Regions from separate parts of the Homo sapiens genome. Here all the other regions are linked to region 3. The links come from fine-mapping of genetic effects on plasma protein levels. A gene starts in region 3. Each other region holds a variant in brackets. All regions are shown on one strand. Distances are between the middles of the regions.

Region 1 (5,347 bases), 70 kb after region 3:
GATCATGGTAAAGTGAGGGAGGATTCCAGGGAAGAGAGAATGGTCAGTATTGTGGAGGACCTCTTGGAGGGTCTGAGGAAGTGGTTATTTAACAACCACTGTAGAAATATGTCATTATTCTAATAACCAGTAATTCTGTACTGGTGCTAACCATTTGATATCAGCACTGAGGTCTTAGTAACTGGTGCAGAGAGAGGGTTCAGGAGAAGAGGGTGTGGAGGAAGTCTACTCTAGATGGTAATATTGGGAAAGGCCTCTCAGAAGAAGTGACATTTAAGCTATGACCTGAATGAAGAGAAAGAGAAATGCAAGGGGTAGTTGGGAAGTTAAGTCAGGGGGATGGGAAGAGGATTCTAGCCAAAGAATAGCAAAGACAATGATGGTGAAGTGCAATAAACTTGGTGTGTGTACCGAATGGTACAAAAGCTAATGTTGCTGCAACGTTATGCTGAGTGAATTATAAGAAATTAGGTCAGATGATAAGCACAGCCCAGATCTTGTGGGGCCTTTCAGGCCACAATAAGAAAATAAAATGAGAAGCCACAAGAGGGAGGATTTTAAGCATGGAAATGATATAATCTGATTTACATTTTTAAAGGATTACGTGGGCCTTGGTAAGAAGAATGGATTTGTGGGGAGGGTGATTAGGGAGAGAACAATGGAGAATCTGTTCTAGCCTGGAGATGATAGCAGCCTGAACCAGAGTAATGGCAGTGGAAATGGGGAAAATTGGGTTGATTCAAGATTATTTGAAAGTTGTAGTGGTTTCAAAGAGCTATCTATACATTCTTTGATATGTGGGCTAGGCATTTTTGCACTGCTATAAACACCTGAGGCTGGGTAATTTATATAAAAAAAGTTTTAATTGGTTCATGGTTCTGTAGGCTGTACAGGAAGCATGGTGTCAACATCTGCTCAGGTTCTGGTGAGGACCTCAGGAAGCTTAAAATCATGGGGGAAGGTGATGGGCATCACTAGCATGTCACATGGCAAGAGAGGGAGTGGGGGTGGGGGGAGGTGCTATAGTCTTTTAAACAACCAAATCTCACGTGAACTCAGAGCAAGAGAACTCACTCATTACCATGAGGATGGCACCAAGACAATTCAGAGGGATCTGCCACCATGACCCAACACCTCCTACCCTGTCCCACCTCCACCATTGGGGATCACATTTCAGCATGAGATTTGGAGGGGACAAACATCCAAACCATATCAATATGCCTCAAGGCATATGAAGGGGAGCCTCAAAAGGTGAAGTTTAATTCTTCTCACCTTGAATGTAAACTGGAGTTAGCAGTTTGCATCTAACAAACAGAATATGACAGAAGTTAGGGGATGTCATTTCAGAAGTTAGGTTAATAAAAGATTGTGGCATCCATTTTGGAGGCATGCTATCTCACTCTTTCAGATTGCTCATTCTAGTGAAAGTCAGCTACCTTGTTCTGTTGTAGTTCTGTAGAGAGGCCCACGTATCAAGGGACTGAAGTATCAAGGGACTGAAGTCTCTAAAGAGCTGTGTGAGTAATCTTGGAGGCTGATCTCACCTCCTTCACCCACTCCAGTTGAGCCTTCAGATAAGATGGCAATTCACACTGACAGCTCAGCTGCTAACTCATGAGAGACCTTGAGCCAGAGGTATCTAGCTGTGCCATGCCTGAATTCCTGACCCACAGAAATGATGAGATAATAAATGTTTGTTGTTTTTAATGGTGAGACTTTAGTATAATTTGTTATGCAGCATACGATAACTAATACAAAATAGAGCCTATAGGACTGACTGATCTGTTTGGTGCAAGAGGGTGTGAGGAAAAGAGATGGATGAAAGAAGATATGTAGATTTTGGACTTGAGCAACTGGATGGTAGTGATGCCATTTATTGAAGTGTGAGTTTGGGCAGGGGGGATTAAGAGTTTTCCTTTGGACACATTTTGAAAAGACTGTTAAACACCCCAGTGGGCATGTCAACCAGGTAGCCTGCTGGGCCCTGCCCAAATTCCTTATGCACTGTTTATGAGCATAAGAAAATGATTGTTTGGTTTAGCAGCTAACCTTGTGAAATATCTCCAATCTTCCATTCTCACCTTAACCCATTCTAATATGGTTTGTGTTCTTTTGACTCGTGTAGAATTTGTTCTTATTAAACCACCTATTGTATCCATGTTATCTAATTCAGTAGTTACTTCTCTGCCATAAGCATACTCAACTCATAGCCACATTGGACACAGATCATCATTCCCCCTCTTTTCGAATACTCTTCTCTTTTGGATTCATTGGTTCTACTTCTTAGGTAGATTCTTCTGCTCCACCTGGTGTTAACCAGGGTGGCTTAGCCAGTGGTATTCAGTTGGTGGCCAGGCTGTGGTGGCTGGGCTTGTCTAATAGCCCACTTCATTCATTTCTGCTTCCTTGGTGCCGATGGTTAAGAGGTTGGCTTCAGCTGACCACTTTCCCTCTCCATATGTTCATGGCCTTTCATGTGAATGCTCCAGTGGAGTGGTCAGGTTTTTTACATAGTAGCTCAAGGCTTAAGAGCAAGTGTTCAGAAGGAGCAGAGAGAGAGGGCAGTAGTTACAATGTGAGGCCAAAGAAGCTTCCCCCCAGAAAGCTAAAGGTGATAAGTAAAGCATGTTGGTATTGGCTGGCAATATTCCACAAGAGATGAAAGGACAGATATTGCAGAAGAGAGAAGGTATAACTGGGACCAAAAGCCTTGAGAAGGAAAGAGACATGGAGCAAATCATTCACAGTAACAGCAGACAGCAGAGAAGAGA[G/C]ACATGGTTGTACAGAGGCACCTCCTTTGGGTCTTTACTCAAATGCCCCATTATCAGTGAGAACTTCTCTGACTGCTATTCTTCAGCAGAGGGTATTCCTTATCCCCTTTCTTGCTTTATGTGTTTTCTCCATAACATATGTGCATATCCATAACACACACATGCATCACCTAGAGCATTATATATGCCACAGTGACATGTTTTGCTGATTTCTCAATTGACTCCCCCCATTGGAATGAACGTAAGCTTGAGGAAGACGTTTTGTCCTGTTCTGTAGCATCTAGAACAGCGCCTGGCACATAGTAGGTACTCAATAAATGCCAGCTGCATGAGGAAATGAATGAGCTGTGTGGGGGATGTACTTGAGTGAACTCTAAAGTCAGAGTGGTGTTGAGAGAAAAATGCTTGAAATCCAGATGTTGGAAGGTGACACAGAGTAGTAGCCTGGTGAGAACAGTTAGATCTTAGGGGTTCCTACTACAGCCCTCCCTTCCGCACCTTTTTGGCTGTCACCATGATCAAGCTACTGAATCTCTCTGAGACGCAAGGACCGGGATGGCACAAAGTGAGTGCTCACCAAAGCTTGACTGTCCTTTCCCATGGCAATTTACTTCAGCTTGTTTGATTTCCCCTCCCCGACTGGACTAGGCACCTATTCTCTGTCTTCTCTCTTTACAGTTGGAAGGAGCAAAATGGGACTTTTGGCTGAAAGTGCTGAGCTCCTGCGGTGGGGGCTGACCGCAAGCCACGCCTTCTGTGCACCTGGTCGGCCCAGCTAGCTGCCGACCCGGCGGGGAGGGGCGGGGCGGGCCAATCGGCGCTGCCCCAGCAGGGCTGCGGCTGCAGGCAGGCAGAGCCTCCTAGCCCGTCGGTGTCTGCGCCCATCGATCCCTTTGTCTATCCCCGACCATGGCGAAGCTGATTGCGCTCACCCTCTTGGGGATGGGACTGGCACTCTTCAGGAACCACCAGTCTTCTTACCAGTAAGTTGGGTTGTGGTGAGGGCTGCAGCCTTCGTCCTCCTCACTCCCTGCCAGCTCCACGAGCCCCCAGAAAGTTGGGTCCAGGCTGTTAACAGAACATTTACAAGCAGGTGCTAGATGCACACTCTGCGGGGGTTTCATAAATGTTTGTCCAGCCGTCATGTGTCACTTGAAAACAAACTCTTGCTCATGGCCTGAGACATGGGATAAGGAGGCAATTGCCAGGGGTGTGAGTGCCCAGGTTGTCAGCATACACGAATTAATTTTTCATGAAGATTTGTGTGCCCTGGCTACAGATTCACTTCTCAACCTGGAAAGAAACAAACTAACCTGGCTGGGGGTTCTCCTGATATTTTGTGTATTAGAGAAAGGAGCCCCTGTCGCTTCTGCGCCTTGACTGCCTGGCCATGGCAAACCTTCCAGGCTTGAAGATTCTCAAATTGAGGCTACTGAGGGCCACAGCAAAACTGCGTGTGGACCCGAGCAGGTGGAGCTAACGTGTGCTGTGATGGTTCGCTTCAGTGGGGGCAGGCGGGGAAGAGGGAACCCTGGAGCCAGCATCTGATGTCCTGGGGTTTAGCTCTGCCCCATGAGTATGCGATTTGGGCAAATCACTTTACATCTCTAACCTTAGCTGCTTCAGTAAACTGGAAATAGTAATACACACTGCCTGCGACAGAGTAGCTATTCAATAAATGTTAGTTCCCTGCTTCCCTTTAAAGTATTTAATAAAGGGTTAAGTGCTATACAAGGGGGGTGGGGATATTTTAAGAATGTATCAAAAGTTTCATAACTTTTAACAGGAGTTCAAAGTCTACAGATCATCCTAGTCTCTAAGGCTTAGTCAACAATGCCTTATTTACTTTAAAGTAAAACCTAATAAAAATTAAATATAAAAAAATTATATGAGCTTATGGACTAATTAGAAGCTTACATTCAGAATGGGTTTTTACTATTTATTGTGGATGTTTTTCTAATTTTTTTAAGTTACAGAGTGCAGAAAAAAAGTAAGAAGCAGTTGGTATTCTTGGCTTTTAAATCATGTAAAAATTACAGTTTGTGAGTTTTTATTAATCACAGTGCTGGTGGCTGCCAAAGGAGATTATAGGTATAGATAAAAATATATAGATAAAGGATGGGTTGCTGAGCCTCCTGGAGTGACCCAGACAGAGGAAGGAAGGGAAATTTTACCCACTGTTGGAAACCCCTAAAACCTAGCTACTCAACTGGGTCTGGGGACCAGATGCCTGAGCATCACCTAGGGGCTCCCTGTACAGGCAGAATCTCAAGCCCTACCCCACACTATTGAATCAGAACCAGCGTCATGGAACAAACTCCCTGGGGGATTAGAGATCATGAATCTGCCCCAGGGAGAGAAGGCAAGAGATGATATCATGAGGCCTGCATCAGGAGCAAGCCAAATCCCCAGGATAGATGCATCCTTTTTTCTTCAGACTTGGAGTGTATGTGTGTGCGGCTCACAGGAAGCTATATATGCCTGGGCTGGAGGGAACTTAAGGAAGCACACAAGGGATGCCTCAAGAGATTTCTGAGTTTCCCAGGTGGGAGCAGTACAGAGAAAAGAACTGAGAG
Region 2 (5,347 bases), 35 kb after region 3:
CCAGTTTCATTATAGTCATAACTCATATTCAAAGCCTGTTTAAAGCACTTCAAGAATATTAAAAATACTACCCCATTATCTTCTTTTACTGTGGTTTAGAAAAGGATTGCAGTGGTACTTTCAAGGAGTGTGCATTTTTATACCTCTTCTCCAAAATAAAAGTGAGTGTTGTCTCTCATTACCACTTGCTTAAGTGTAAATGTCATTTACTTCAAAGGTATGTCTATGTAGCTGATGTAGCAGCTAAGAACATTCACATAATGGAAAAACATGATAACTGGGATTTAACTCAACTGAAGGTAAGAGTACCCTGTCTGGCCCACACAATCTGACTTCTTACCTTAGTCCCATACTTGACCCAGGAATGTGCCCCTTGAATGAGGAAAACATGGCTATTTGAGAGCAATGCCAGTGAGATTATGCATGCGTTTCTAAAATACAGAAGCAAAGCCCCCTAAAAACACCAACTTTAGGTGCCAGAAGAAGCTGTAGGGGTTGTGGGGATGAATAGGGAAGAAAGCGAGGAATCATTGAGACAATGTCTTCACTACTCCCTCTTTGTTGTAAGGTGATACAGTTGGGCACCTTAGTGGATAACCTGACTGTCGATCCTGCCACAGGAGACATTTTGGCAGGATGCCATCCTAATCCTATGAAGCTACTGAACTATAACCCTGAGGACCCTCCAGGATCAGAAGTAAGTTCCTATACCTCTCTGAGCTCACAGGCAAAGCTGCAAGAACAAATTTGTTGGGGTGACTTGGAAGAATTTAAGCCAGTCACATTTGGTGTTATAGAACTAAAGAAATTTTACGTATGAGAAAAGTAAAGTTTTTGACAGGTAGGGAGATAAGGTTCGTTAACTCTTTTAGGCCACCATTAACTTTTCAATAACTCTTGCTGTTGGGAATAATGGAAAAACATAAGCTCGATTATTCATATTGACCCAGATTGCCATATCGTATTTCCAATCAGGAGATAGTCTCTGAGCAGGTAGGTCTTGCAGTTAGACAAAGAGAGAGTTGTATATGGTACCATCTTCTTTCACACTGTCCAACATGAAGCTAAGATTAAAGGATTTAAATAACTGTCGCCTCAAAATAAAATGAGTTTTTGCCTGTAAGTTCTAACATATACGATGGTGTTGAAAATTGTCTTATTTTCAAGATATCATTTGTGTTATTTTAAAATATCTCTTCTAAAACAATAGCATAATCCATTGAATTTTCTACATTAAAAACAACATTATAAGACAACTGCATTTTCTATGGCATTAAGGTTAACAATTTAAAAATCTTTAGTGAATTTATATATAGCTATAAATTCTAGGCACACATACTCAGAGATTTATTCACAAAAATTTATTGAGTACCTGTAATGTGTCAGACATTGTACTTATGTTTAGGATATATCAGAAAAAATATACAGAGATCCCTGATCTTAAGAAAGGGGGACAAACAATGAACAATAAGCATAAGAAATAAGTAAATTACATAGTAACTTTGAAGATGGCAAATTTTATGGGAAAAAAGGCTCAGCAGAGTAAAGGGGATCAGGATTACTATATGCAGCAGGATGAGCAGGTCCTACTACTAAAGTCAGAGATCAGAGTAGGCCTCATTGAGAAAGTACAATTTGAAAAAAATTAAAATGTGTGAATCCACATTTGGTGATTTGAGAAACTGAAATTCAAATTCAAACCCAGTAATTGGCCTAGTGGGTAAATTAGGACATACAGTTATTTCTACTTCCAGTATTGCTGTCTTTCAGTTAAAAATATGATTATTTCTTTTTTTATTAATGTATTAGTCACAGCTTCTTAAAAAGAACACAAGAAATGTAAAAAGAAACAAAAGTCCAACCTAAGCCTAGAACCAGAATTGTTACCCTAAACTAGGAAGCAATCCTTGCCTCAGATATGTACCCCTAAGAGTGATAGACAAAACTTTCCTTTAAAAGCCCAACCACAATGTCTGTCTTAAGGAAATGAAATATGATACATAGGATTATTGGAGAATTGTTTAGGATCTTTTTCGTATCTCTATTTTCAAGTTGAATTATTTTTAAAATTTTAGATAAGACTTTTTGTCACAATTACTGACACCCTTTAATTTTGGTTGAATCTCATGTTTTGTACATGAAATCAAAGCTTAAGTATTTTTGTCTAACAAACCTGAGATGAAGGATCTCCCTTAAGATAAAAAAAAGAACAAACTCTGTTCTAATAAGAGATATCAATATAGACTCGTAACTCATAAATTTCTAATTGTTTTCCTTTAATTCCAAAATAAAAATTTTATTTTATTTTGTTTGAGTGAACTTCATCCAGCCTATTTGGAAGCCTGAGTGCTTAAATATACACTGATTAGCAAAGTTAAGTGTATTAATCCTGGGATCAATAACAGTACTAGGCAGTGATGTGTCAAATGAAATTCCAAAGTAGTATCCATTATTTATGCTTTCTAGCAACTTTGCAGATGTGAAGGGGCTCCAGCTGTGATGACTGCCATCCCATCAGTTACCATGTTGGGTTGGCTGGATAACTGGGTGTTTCTTCATTATTTTGTCTTGTTTCTCTCCCCATACTGTAATCTCAAAGGCAAGATTCTTCCCACAGAGGGAGGACCACCATCCACTTGAGAACTAAATAAGAGCATCTTAACTCCTTCTGTAAGGGATGCCTGCACTAAAAAAATTGTGTAAGTCATCCCTGAGGAATTTGGCTAATGTCAGAAAGCCAGTTCACTTTGGTGCATAGATATCTATGACATTAGTACTTTCATCAGAAGAAGAACAATTTATTGAAGATATACAGATTTTAGCTTCTGATTTCTGAAAAATAGATTTATCCTAGAATGTTTGGGAAGGACATCATGAAACAGGTGTTTACTCACATAATATACTAATAAACGATCTTTTCTCGACAGGTACTTCGCATCCAGAATGTTTTGTCTGAGAAGCCCAGGGTGAGCACCGTGTATGCCAACAATG[G/A]CTCTGTGCTTCAGGGCACCTCTGTGGCTTCTGTGTACCATGGGAAAATTCTCATAGGCACCGTATTTCACAAAACTCTGTACTGTGAGCTCTAGACTCTAGATAGTAAAAAAAAAAAAAAAAAGTCTACATATTTTGTAAAAGTAAACTGATAATTGTATGATAAGTGGCACTGTAAGTAAATAGCAAACACCAACCAGTGAGTGTGGCTTTTCTTATGGATAGAAGTAAAGGAGCAGACAGAGATTCCTTGATAGCCATCAAATTGCAAGTCAGGTTAATGACAGTCCAACAAGAAGCCAAACTTTACGGATCTTTGTTAGCAGCCCCAATGTTCTTTCTACAATAAAACATGTGGACTATGTCCAGTGAGGTCTCCGACTCACCTAGAGGTCCTTGGTAACTGGGTCCAAGTTTCCTCCTACAGTTTTGACGTTCTGGGTCTCCTACAGTCCAGACCAAGAGAAAAGCTAATGTTCAAGTATTTACAACCCCTGTTCTCTCCCCGCAGTTGTGCTGGGCACAGACAGTTAATTAAGTGTACCAGTCTGCAGATAAAGAATTAGCATCATGTGATTGCCCAAAGCCCTTAGAACTTGCATTCTCCCAGGGTACCGACACATAGGAAATTGGGTTCTGAGAAATCTGACAGTTGGGCCTCAGAGGCTACCTTAGGGCAGGGAGTGCTTATCTCTAATAGGCCCTTATTTGTATTGATGCTTGTATCTGAAATACAGTTGGCCCTCTGTAACTGTGAGTTCTACATCTATGGATTCAACCAACCAGAGATTGAAAATATTTGGAAAAAAATGGATGGTTGCATCCGTACTGAACATGTACAGACTTTTTTTGGTCATTAATCCCTAAACAACACAGTATAACACATATTTACATAATATTTAGATGATATTAGGTATTATAAGTGATCTAGAGAGTACCTACATAGGGGAATGAACATAGGTTATATGCAAATACTATGCCATTTTATATCAGGGACTTGAGCATCCGTGGATGTTGGTATCCATCAGAGTCCAGGAATCAATCCTCCATGGTTATTGAGGGACAACTGTTTTGCTAACCTACTGGGCTCTGAATCTTAGATGAAGCCTTAAGGCAGTTATCTTTGACTGCCTTTATCTTACCCTTCTGGTTTATTCAATAAACAGTTATTAAGCAACCTCCAGTAAATTTGGCCCTAAGGAATCTGAAATGAGTAGAATGGTTCTGGCCTAATGTCCTATCTTGAAGACCAACCTTAAACTTAATTTGATGAGAATGAATAGAAGTGTCCTTTTTTGGTCCCAAACCAGTACAACCTTTAGCAAACAAACCATTAATTAAAGTCAGAGCACCCAAGCACCTCCCTTCCCTTTTTGTGACTTTTATTCGGGAGTGGTTGGTTGATGCTTTTTCTCTTTTGGGGAGACCATTTTATATGCAAAAGAACATTGCTCAGTTTTATGTAGGTTTGCTGAAAAGTTTTGCAGGGTAAAATTCTCCTTTTTTCCAGTGTAACCCATTGTGATTTTGACTATAAGACTTTGTAGTTTTCATTGCTTCAAAGAGGAATAAACATTCAGCAGAATGCTATAGTCAGTTATTAGATTTTAAATTTCAAAAGCCTAGCTATCAAGAGAACACAGAATAAAAAAGACATTAAAGACATAATTTAAGAAAATAAGTAGAGTCAGTTTTGAAGAATATAATAGTCTTTGTTTTAGTCCCTAGCCCTCATACTTACTATATTATAATGTTTACCAGACTAGGGGAGAATAAAGAGAGATAGGAAAAGACAAAGATAATTTAGATGCTGGTAAGTTCCTGAGAATTGATCCTGCTCTGCCTTCTCCTCAGGCCAAGTTAGAAAGGCTGGGGGATAAAACTTTCCTCAGGAAATTTGGGTGATCTGATTGCTGAGGGACTAATGTGTCCTTTCCCTGGGAGGGCCTGGGAAAGTCACAAAGCCTTAGGGATTCTCTGTGCTCAGCCTGATGAAAAAACAGAGAAGAAATGCTAGTGTGATTTACTGGGGATGGCATCACACCTACACTTGAACTTGGCACAGAAGCAAATTCCCACGTGCCCAGAGGGGTATGGGGGTTAGCAGAGAAAGAACTGATAGACTTAAAAAGGTCTTGCTGTCAGGAAAAAGAAAATAAGTAGTCATCTGATTCAAATGAAGACCGAAGTTTAGACGGTGACATCAAAGACCAGCTGTCTCCCATGATGCTTTAGCTCTCCCTGCTGGATTTTAGAGAAAACTCCCAGGATTGGGAGGGGGCTTTGGAATTGCCTTATATATTGATTTGTGCTTCCAAACAATGTGTGGGGAGTCAAAAACAAAATTACATGAGGC
Region 3 (5,347 bases):
AATACGCTTCTTTCTTTACCCCCTTCTTCATGCTATGCTGCAAACACAGTGATAAGGAACATGAGCTCTAGAGTCACCTGATCTGAGTCCAGATGGAGGCACTGACACTTAGTTATGTAACCTTAAGTGAATTATTACTTTACCTCTCTAAGCCTCAAAGCCTCACTTTCCTTCTTTTTAGTCCCATCAAACTTGCAGCAAGCAATTCACTTTACTTCTTTGTAGGTAAGGTTAATAAGAAGTAATGTGACAAGGCATGCAAACGCTGAGTGAAATAATAATATGACTATTATTATTTCATTATTCATTCCATTTATTTTTTATTCTTCTAATTTTTCTTTCTCCCAAGTCCATATTTTACATCCATCCATCTAATCATATTTATTGAGTCATTATTAAGCACAAAGTTCTATGGATGGCACGGGAAAACCCAGTGATCAATGCGATGGAGTCCTTCCCACAGGAGCCTACAATCTCAAGCAAAGTTCAGAATTAATTAGTGGTTAATCTTTACTGACTTCATAAAACGTATCAAGCACAGTGCAGAGCACTTGACACTCATTATCACATTTAATTTTAAGCTACCTATGAGGTGGACGTTCTTTTACAGAAGAGGAATCTGTAGCTCAATAAAGCTGAGTACTTTATCTAGGCTGGATCCAAACCCAGGCAGCCTGACTCCCAAACCCTGCATGCATGTCTACATCACACCCCAGGCCCCTCAGCTCTGTGAGCCCTCCTGACTTCGATTCCTCCTCTGCTTGCACTCTTTTAACATTAGTCATCTTAACAAGAACTCTAATCTATACAATTCAAGACGTTACACTGTCCTTTTAATACAACCCTTCTTCCATAGATTTTCTAGAGGCAGCATGGTAGAGGCAGCTCAGTTAAGGGCCCAGATTTTGGAGTCTGCTGCTTGACAGCTGCCTGACCTACAGCAAGCCACATAAGCAATCTGTGCTGCAGGTCTCACCTGTAAAATTGGGGTAAGGCTACCCACACTCCAGAGATTGTGTTGATAATTAAATGCGTTAACATAGGTGTCAGCACAGGCAAAGCACACAGTCAGTACTGCATAAGCGGTGGGCTTCATTATTCATCCTGTAATTACGTATTCATACTAGAATCATGTATCCCATAGGTCAGGGACCACCTTTTCTTTCCTTAATACCCCCAGGATTGGCAAATCTTGCTCTCTCAACAAATAGTTTACTCGGTGGAACCTAACAGAACTAATATTTCTTTCTGTCCGTAAATAAAAATAGATCATGCTTGAATGTGCTACTTTGCCCGAACTCCCCAAGTCTTCCCGCATCTTCAGTTCCTCCCCCTCCAACCTGGTGTTCATCAGGAGAGGGGAAAGAGCATTTCTTGCCTGGCAGGAACTCAAGACCTAGAAGAAAGAGGGCCTACCCTGCCAAGGAAATGACCTTCCCCTTCCTCGCCTCTGCTCCTCTTCCCGTTTCCTGTCTTTTCCTTCTTTTCTCCTGGTGTTTCCTTCTCCCGTTAACTATGGGGACAGACGCAGCTATTCACAAGTCCGTCTGGGCAGCACACTCCGAGGTAAGGCACGAAGGTCAGGAGACAGGTTCCCGTGCCCCAAATCCTGGAGAAGATGAGTTAAAGCTCTTCGCTTCGATTGCCTTCGCCCTTCCCGCGTCTCGGGAGCAATTCAGTGTCGCCTCACGTCTGGCCTTGCAGAAGTCCGGAGTTCCGGCTCTGAACTGGAGCTCCCCGCCATTCCCGGGCCCTCCGGTTTCTCCCTCAGGCCATCTGAGGAATTGAGGTAGGATTTCGCGGGTGTTAGGAGCAAACTCCCACCACAACTCGGTCCCGGGCTCCCTCTCCGTTGAGCCTTGACCTCTGCCCAAAAAACAAGGAATCGTGGGCGTGAAGGCGGCCTTGAACCCGGGCGGCGGGGCTCGGCGGGACTCGTCAGCGCCCTGCTGCGGCACCCGGGCCGCTCAGGTAAGTAGGAGGCGTGTGCGGGCGGGGCCGAGCGGGCCCCAATCCGTACGCGAGGCAGGAACCGCCCGCCGCGCCCCCGAGAGCTCTCGGCGCCGCGCAGTCGCCGCTGGGCACCCCGAGACCATGGGGAAGCTCGTGGCGCTGGTCCTGCTGGGGGTCGGCCTGTCCTTAGTCGGGGAGATGTTCCTGGCGTTTAGGTGAGTGGCATCTTGACAGGGCGTCTTCGACTCTCTTTCTCTCCTCTTCCAAGTGAGGTCAGGGGCTGCCTGGCGCCCCCTTCCTAGCGGGTAGGAAAGAGCAGCTTTGGAACCTCACTCCTCCATCTCACCCAGCAAACCGCCCCTTGAGACTCGCTTATGGGGAAAGTGAGCTACTTGCGTTTCCAAAGACTGCCGAGCCGAATTAGTCCCATTTATTTTTTGAAGGTTATGATCCCCCACTTTGCTTTCTGAAGGTCATGACCCCCTTTTACTTTCTGAACGTGATGACCCCTTTCCCAGCTCGCCCTCAACATTCTGCTTGGGAAAAAAGGACGTCCATTGGAAACGCCGGACTTGGGAGAGAGGATCAGGCTACCAGTTGGATGTTTACGGCTGACTGAGACATTGCCCAGGTCTGGCTAACCATGCAGAAGTACTGGGTTATGGAACCTATCCTAGATTTAAAGAGCTGGCCAGACAGCAGGGCAAACCAGCTGAAACCTGCAGGCGGTAACTGGCATTTTGTAGGCATTTGACCTTTTGAAGTGGAAGATACAATGGTGATAGCCAGCCTAGAAATGTCTCAGGAAAAGTCAATACTGGGCTAGAAAGAAGAACCTTTAAGTGATAATACACATTCATGAGTGGATCGAAAGCCTCTGCTTGCTTTCAGTTGTCTTTGAGTGTTTATGTATTTCTCTTAGTTGAAGCTGGTCTTCTTAGAGGATCACGTCTAGAATCTGTTGAGGTGCCTGGTGCCTATTAGTAATACTTCCAGTTTGAGAGTTTTATTGTTACATTTGCTCCCAGTGCAACCACATGGAGAATCATAAAATAATAGTAATAATAATAAAGTAGATCTAAGGGTATTTTTTTAAATAAATGACTGTAAGATAAGTATTGAGTCTTTCTGAATATACTTTAATAAAAATTTTAAATTATCCCTGATATTAGAAGAATGTGGAAACATTCCTTTTCACTCTGGAAACAAGAAAATTGTGTTGAAAAATAAATCGGCCAATTGTTTAAATTGTGGTTGGTTTAATGAATTTACATACTTGCGGAGTAAGTCAGCATAAAATTTAAAAATTAAAGCAAAAGTGATAGAGTTTGACTATTAGGAGACCCTGTTGAATTTTGGGAAAGCAGTTTGGAAGGAAAAGTTCAAAGGGCAAGACTGTAGGGGATTAAGTGCAGATTTATAACAGACGATACTTTAGAAAATTAGGGCTATTTCGTGCATTTAAATTAATAATATTGTTCAATTACTCATACTATTAAATAGTGTCTTTTATTTGGGCAGCAGAATTTTCCATGTTGAATCATATTATACAGTTTTTCAGCAATAACTGGGTAAGGTTAGCTGATATAGGTAAAATACCCACATAATGTCTACATTATGTAAATAAACATGAAAGGAAGTACCTACTTACTTGTTATGTCATTCATAAATTATGATAAAGATAGTTAACCAACACGAAGATGATTGAAGTCCACATTTAAACATACATTTTGAATGCTGTGCCTTGACTTCCAGGGTTGGGTTTTATCTTCTACAGAGAAAGGGTGAATGCCTCTCGAGAAGTGGAGCCAGTAGAACCTGAAAACTGCCACCTTATTGAGGAACTTGGTATGTATGTGACAGTACCAAGAGGAGCCAGCACAGCTTCTTGGTCGTCATCCACCTGACTGAGCCCTACCAGCTCATTTAATTACCTGTCACTACTTAAGCCCTCCCAGTGGGACATCTGCCCCGTCCACTCTGCCCCATGCAAGGTCTTCAGGGGTGTACTAAATGACATTCTTTGTGGGTTTTTCTCAGCACATTTCCTTACTGACATCTCTCCACATTACCTAAAGAATGTCATTGACCACTCCCTGGTTTTCCCCTCACTGAATGCTTCTCCTTTCCCATCTGTGGTATTTCACTCTCCTCCTTGTCCTCTGTTACCTTTCCTTTTTTTGCTTCTTTCTTCTTTCCTTCCTCCCTCCCTTTCCTTATTGTCATTCCTGGCTTCAAGTGTTATTTTTTTTCAAATAATATGACTCAGCCCCTCCCCTCAAGAACCTCACAGCAGGCTGGGCGCAGTGGCTCACACCTGTAATCCCAGCACTTGGGAGGCCGAGGGGGGCGGATCATGAGGTCAGGAGATCGAGACCATCCTGGCCAACATGGTGAAACCCCATCTCTACTAAAAATATAACAATTAGCCGGGCATGTTGGCGGCGTGTGCCTGTAATCCCAGCTACTCGGAAGGCTGAGGCAGGAGAATCACTTGAACCAGGGAGTCATCGGAGGTTGCAGTGAGCTGAGATCGCGCCACTGTACTCCAGCCTGGCGACAGAGCGAGACTTTGTCTTAAAAAAAATAATAAACGAAGGAACCTCACAGCCTACCTACCTTCTTTTAAAAAAATTCATAAAAAATCCATGGCCCAGTCCCTAACCTTTCAAACTGCAGCCCTTCTTTTTTAGTCAGTTAAAGGGCAGCTCCAGCTCAAACTCTCCCTAAGCTGAAATCTATTTTACATTTCTGTCGTTTTCTCCCTCATCCTCCCACCCACAACCAGCTCTGCTTCTAGACTTTTCCTATGTATGGTACCCCCATTCTCAAAAGATTCAGTTCAAAATCCAGGAACCATTGTTCCCCGCTTGTCCCTCATGCTTCTACGTGAGACATGGGCTAATCTCACCTACTAGTTAATGCCACACCTGCTTATTTGGGCTCCACAGCTCCAATTCTTCCTGACATTGCTAACAGAAAAATAAAATAAAATCAGGCTAGATTGTGTTCCCTGTTCTGGGAATATGTTCTTTCACCTTCTCACCTTTGCTTATGAAATTCCCTCCAAACTTACTGATTCCTCTGTCTCTGCTTACTAAAATCAGCTGCAAAATTCATCTCCTTCCTCTGAACTCTCACAGCACTCTGAAGCTCCGATTCACTTATGACACCTGCCACATGCCTTGTATTATAGCTAGCAGTGTTCTCTCTTTCACTATCAGATTGTAAACTCCCTAGGGCCAAGAACTGTGACTTATTTATTAGAATGTGATGAGATAGCTTATTTTGGGATATGATTTTCTATTTTATTGCTATATTTAAAAATACAGAAAAAGTACCCTTTTGATTTGAGTTTTCTGCCTTTTCTTGCCTCTCAATTTCTAAAAAATAA
Region 4 (5,347 bases), 63 kb after region 3:
GGAGTTCTGTGGTTTCTGACAGCTAACTGGTGAATCACATAAACCATAGAATGTAATTGATTCTATCAAGAAGTAAAATCAAATGAAGTATAGATGGAGCATTCTGTGGACTGCTATCAATTTTCTCTAAAGAAAAAAAGAATTGGCTTCTGCCATGAATCTGAAGATTGTCTGTGGGTAAAATGCAAATGGAAAGTAAATTGTTCATGAATGAATTCTAGAAAAGCCCACTGGTATTCATAGAGAGAGAAAGTAAATATCTATATAGAAATTTTGGGAATAATAAAGTCAGATGTGCCCTACTATTAATAGGTTTAAACATTTTGATCATTTCCCTATCTTTATCTTGCTTTACTCACTACTTTCCAGGACTTTTCCTACCAGGCACTGTCAATAAATCATGTGCTTCTGAATTCCTCTGTCTCCCATTCTAGGGAACCAGACAGACATCAAATATGTATCTAAGTTGCCCAAGACAGGAGCCAGATACTCACTTTATCAGCCTTTGTGGTACACTGGACAACTGTTTTCCATATATTCCATTTCTCTTCTTGCTGTGCCACTCTTAGTGGGCTGAGTATACATCTCTGTGTTATTAAACTCAGGAATGGCCATGTGACTTAGTTTGGCCAATGAAATACTGGTAGAAGTAACACAGATCACTTTCAGATAGAAATTTTAAGAGCCACTGTAGTTCACTGTGTCTCTTTTCTCTTTGCCCCCAGACTGGTAATGTTGTAGATATAGCTTGCTCTGCCAGACTGGACCCTGGATTAGTGATAATCAGAAGCAGAGCCAGAGCTAACTTGCAATGGACAAGTAGCATGAGCAATAAATGTTAAACATAAACAGTAAACCATTGCTGTTACCAGCCTCTGTTGCAGCATGCTGCAGTAGTTCATTCTTTTTCATTTGCTGTGTGTGGTATTTCATTGTATGAATATTTCACAATTTATCCATTCCACTATTGATAGACACTTATATTTATCCAAGTTTTTGTACATTATGAATAAACTGCAATGAATTTTCTTGTAAAATGTATTTTAATGCATGTATGTAAACATTTCTTTTGACTATATAGAATTGGAATTACTGATTAATAAATCACATATATGTGCAGCTTTTGCAAGTACTGTCAAGCAGTTTTCCAAAGTGGTTGTAGCAGCATACTCCTTCACGAATAATGTTGGAGAGTTCTAGTTGCTTCATTTCTTTGCCAGCACTTAATAATATTAGTTTTCCTTCTTTAACTTTTAACTATTTGGATTGTTATGTAAGAATATCTCATTGTGGTTTTATTTGCATTTCTTAGATAACTAATGGAGTTGAACACTTTGTCTTATGGTTGTTGGCCAGTTGGAATCCTTGTTTGTGCAGTGAATATTTAACATTTTGTTCATTTAAGAAATTAGGTTGACATTATTTTTCTTATTGATTTGTAGGTATGAATCCTTTGTGCATACATGTATTGAAAATATATTCTATTTTTTAGAGTCTTTTTCTTAATCACTTCTGTTGATGAACAGAAAGTCTGCAATTTTAATGAAATCTAACATCAATATTTTTGTTTATGAATGTTGCTTTGAATATCCTCTTTTAAAAATCTTTATGTACCCCAAAATTATGAAATATGCTTCCTTGTGATCTTATAAAATATTTATAGTTATTTTTCACATTTAGATTTTTCATCCACCCAGAATATACTTTTGGTTGTCCTGTGAGTAGGAATCAAGATTCATTTTGGCCATATGTATATCCAATATATACAGCATCATTTTATTGAAAAGAAAATCTTTTCCCCACTCATTGCAGTGGCACTTTATCATAAATAAGGTAACCATTTATGTGTTGGTCTACATCTGGACCTTTTTTTTTTTTTTTTTGAGATGGAGTTTCACTCTTGTTGCACAGGCTGGAGTGCAGTGGCACGATCTCGGCTCAGTGCAACCTCTGCCTTCTGGTTTCAGGCGATTCTCTGGCCTCAGCCTCCTGAGTAGCTGAGATTACAGGCGCCCACCACCACGCCCAGCTAATTTTTGTATTTTTAGTAGAGATGGGGTTTCACCATGTTGGCCAGGCTGGTCTCTAACTCCTGACCTCGTGATCCACCCGCCTTAGCTTCCCAAAGTGCTGGGATTACAGGCGTAAGCCACCGCGCCTGGCCTATATCTGGACTTTTTGTTCTGTTCCGTTGGATTATTTGTCAGTCATTCAACAAAATCACAGCGTTTTAATTATAATAGATTTATAATAAACCTTGATTTTTGGTATTAAAATCCCCCAAATTTGTTCTTCCTCAAAATTTTTTATGGATATTCTTAACTCTTCGTATTTTCACTTAAATTTAGAGTCAGATTGCCAATTTGTACAAAACCTTTCTAGGATTTGTGTTGGAATTTTATTGAGCTCCTTATAGATCAATGCGGGGAGAATGTACATCATTAAATTGCCACCTTTCCAAGATCTGAAGTTGGTATATGTGTCTCTTTAAATGTTTAGTTTCTGTTAGTGAAGTTGTAGATTTTCGTGTAGAGATTTTGAACATCTTCTGTTACATCCTAAGAGTTTAGCAGTTCTGATGCTCTTGTAGATAGTATCTTCTTAAAATTTCATTTTCTAATTGTT[TGTTA/A]CTACACAAGAACAAATGATTCTGTATACTGACTCTATAGCTAGCTACCTTAGTAAATTTATGTTTTTATTTTAAAGTTTATCTGTAGAGTCTTTCGTATCATCTACATACCAAGCACATTGTCTGTAAATAATGAGTGTTCTAGATCTTCTTTTCCAGCCTTGACATCTCCTCTTTCTTTTTCTTACCTTTAGTTTAATATTGGGCATAAGGGATAATCACAAATGTCTTTGTTCCTTTCTCAATCACCAGGGAAAGCTTTCAAATTCTCATCGAGTGTGAAAATTGCTGTAACTTTTTCTCTTTGGCAAAATATTCTTCACCTGATTAAGAAATTTGCATTCTCTTTCTAGTTTACTAAAAATGTTTTTAATTGTAAATGAGTGTTGGATTTTTAAAATACTTTTTCTGCATCTATTGAGATCATCATTTTTCCCCTTTATTCTGTTAATTATATGTTGATTTAAAACTTCAAGCCAAACTCCCATATGGTGTATAAACCTTACTTGATTATGATATTATTATGTTTTTATAATTGTGGACTTACTTGACTAATATTTTAAGATATTAATGTCCATGTTCATAATAAAGATTGGCCTGTAATTTTAATTTCCCTTTTTTGTAATTAATTGTCAGGTTTTAGTATCAAGGTTATATTCACCTGGTGAAAGACTTGAGAGTTATTTCTTCTTTTTTTATTCTCCAAAAGTTAGTGTAAAATTTAGCATTTTTTCTTCCTTAAGTGTTTGGAATAATTCACTTATGAAGCTACCTGGGACTAAAGATTTCTTTAAGGGGGATTTTAAAGTATAGATTACATTTATTTAAAGAATATAGAAATATTACAATTAAATGTTTCTGCTTGTGTATGCTTTGATAAATTTAGCAATTCATTCTTTTCATTTAAATTTGCAGATTTAGTGGAATAAAGTAGTTCATAATATCCTTTTGTTACATATTTAGGATCTGCGGTAATATCCTCTTTATTTCTCACATTTAGAATTTGTTTTCTTTCTCATTTTCTTTCTGTCAGTCTTACCACAGTTTTATATCTTTCATTAGTCTTTTCAATAATCAACTTTTGAATGTTTTGTCCTAAGTTTTTATTGTAGTAAATTTCACATAGTATAAAATTCATCATTTAACCATTCAATGACATACAATTCAATGGCATTAAGTATGTTCACAATATTGTTCAACCATCACCATGATCTTGCGCCAGAATATTTTTCACCATCTCAGAAGGAAACCTATGTGCATTAAGTAGTTATTCCCCATCCTCCTCTCCCCTGCAGTTCCTGACAACTACTAATCTGCTTTCTGTCTTTATGGATTTGCCTTTTCTGGCTATTTCATGTAAATGGAATCCTATAATATGCTGCCTTTTGTGTTTGGCTTCTTTCACTTAGCATAATGATTTCAAGGTGCATCTATGTTGTGGCATGTATTAGGACTTTATTCTTTTTTTATAACTGAATGACACTTCATACAATGGATAGTCTCTCTTCAAGTTTGTTTTTTATTTCATTGATTGCTGATTTTATCTTCATTTCCATCCTTCTCCTTTCTTTGGATTTTTAAGCTTTTTGAGATGTGTGCTTAGACAATTGAAGTGAAGTGACATAGTTCTGTTAGCTTTCCCTTTTCGTACTTTCAGTTTCTGTTTTTAGGTGCACGTCAGTTTTGGTTTGCCCATATCTAGACATACAAACTTAGGGCTCCTACACTTCCTAATTGGATGACTTTGTATGAATGGGGATAATCGTATTGATCCTATCTCCTTGTCCAGGGTCTTGTGAGAGAATGTAAGGTAAAAGCATTTTGTAAACTAACTTCCAGACTTGGATAGTACCTTGTACTTTGCACTGCCATTGCTTTATATCTGCATAGTGCTTTCACAGGTTTTTAAAAATTTAATACAGCAAACCCACAGGAATTATCTCCATTTTACAGATGTTATTTCTGCTACTATAGAATTTTCAGGAAGTGACCATGAATTTAGTATTTAAAGCCCAGGGTTTTTGGGTTTTTTTTTCTTCCAGCTTTACTATAGCTGCCTCATGCAGAATGGTATTATTGGCATTCTTAGAACATTGGAATTTCACACTTTCAGAAACTTGAGAACATTGCAACAACTGCCAACAGGGCTCAGCATCCTCTGCAGATGAACAACACCAAGTGGTATAGTTACCCAATCAATCCTTTTGCACTTCTACAAAATTAAGCTTGGCAAACTTGGCTCTGGCTTTCTACCAATTCATTGACAGTTTTTACTGACTACTCCGTGAATTAGGCTTTTTGTGGGAAAATAAAAGAATGGGTTGATGTGATTGTTACCAAATATATTTAGGAAGAAGTATTTGAACATGTGCAAATAAATACTTAGCACATGAGGATCAAGGGAGGAAAGGAAAGGGATTCTAATAGTCAAGGTGAGATCTGAGTTTTTAAAGAAGTTTGCTTTTTAAATGTTTGGTTATACATTTCTGGTGATAAAAAAATTCTAAGTTTAAAACACCTTCATAACTTCTCATAACATTTAAAATCTTCACATAGCATGGACTCATACTCTTGTCTGCACATTTTAACATGTGTGAAATAGGAAATTATTGTATAATTAATAGTTTCTTAGAATTGTGTTGTAGATTAATTATAGTTTTTCTTTTTTAGTAGTACATAAAATAAAAGAATAATAGATAGTTATGTATTTAACACTGA

Which allele goes with the higher level. Positions count from the first base shown, and alleles are read on the strand shown. Strength reflects both the effect of a copy and how common the allele is.
With allele G in place of C in region 1, the plasma level of the protein whose gene starts at base 2,070 in region 3 is lower (moderate association).
For the plasma level of the protein whose gene starts at base 2,070 in region 3, G is the high allele of the variant in region 2 and A is the other (moderate association).
For the plasma level of the protein whose gene starts at base 2,070 in region 3, TGTTA is the high allele of the variant in region 4 and A is the other (weak association).

Evidence for each region. PIP is the chance, under the fine-mapping model, that this variant and not a neighbour inherited with it causes the effect. The UK Biobank Pharma Proteomics Project read protein levels with antibody pairs (Olink). The fine-mapping took linkage between variants from a reference panel, not from the people measured, so its PIPs are less certain.
Region 1: its variant is fine-mapped to the plasma level of the PON3 protein (UK Biobank, PIP above 0.99).
Region 2: its variant is fine-mapped to the plasma level of the PON3 protein (UK Biobank, PIP above 0.99). The variant lies in the coding sequence of PON3. If it changes the protein, the assay may bind it differently, which can mimic a change of level.
Region 4: its variant is fine-mapped to the plasma level of the PON3 protein (UK Biobank, PIP above 0.99).

The regions. Positions count from the first base shown.
Region 1 is chr7:95,322,809-95,328,155 of GRCh38, reverse strand. PON1 (paraoxonase 1) reads left to right here and starts at 3,624. Exons shown (of 9, transcript NM_000446.7): 1 at 3,624-3,754. The coding sequence starts at 3,681. RefSeq lists a silencer at 3,501-3,680. The variant G/C (reference allele first, on the strand shown) is at 2,772.
Region 2 is chr7:95,357,712-95,363,058 of GRCh38, reverse strand. PON3 (paraoxonase 3) reads left to right here. Exons shown (of 9, transcript NM_000940.3): 7 at 218-299; 8 at 569-697; 9 at 2,928-3,187. The coding sequence ends at 3,086. Among named protein-coding and RNA genes, the nearest start is that of PON1, 36 kb to the right of the region's middle. The variant G/A (reference allele first, on the strand shown) is at 2,992.
Region 3 is chr7:95,393,098-95,398,444 of GRCh38, reverse strand. It overlaps PON3 (paraoxonase 3), which reads left to right and starts at 2,070. Exons shown (of 9, transcript NM_000940.3): 1 at 2,070-2,168; 2 at 3,731-3,801. The coding sequence starts at 2,095. LOC107986822 (a long non-coding RNA gene) reads right to left here and starts at 1,973. Exons shown (of 2, transcript XR_007060439.1): 1 at 1,417-1,973.
Region 4 is chr7:95,329,811-95,335,157 of GRCh38, reverse strand. No RefSeq gene overlaps it. Among named protein-coding and RNA genes, the nearest start is that of PON1, 8.0 kb to the right of the region's middle. The variant TGTTA/A (reference allele first, on the strand shown) is at 2,626.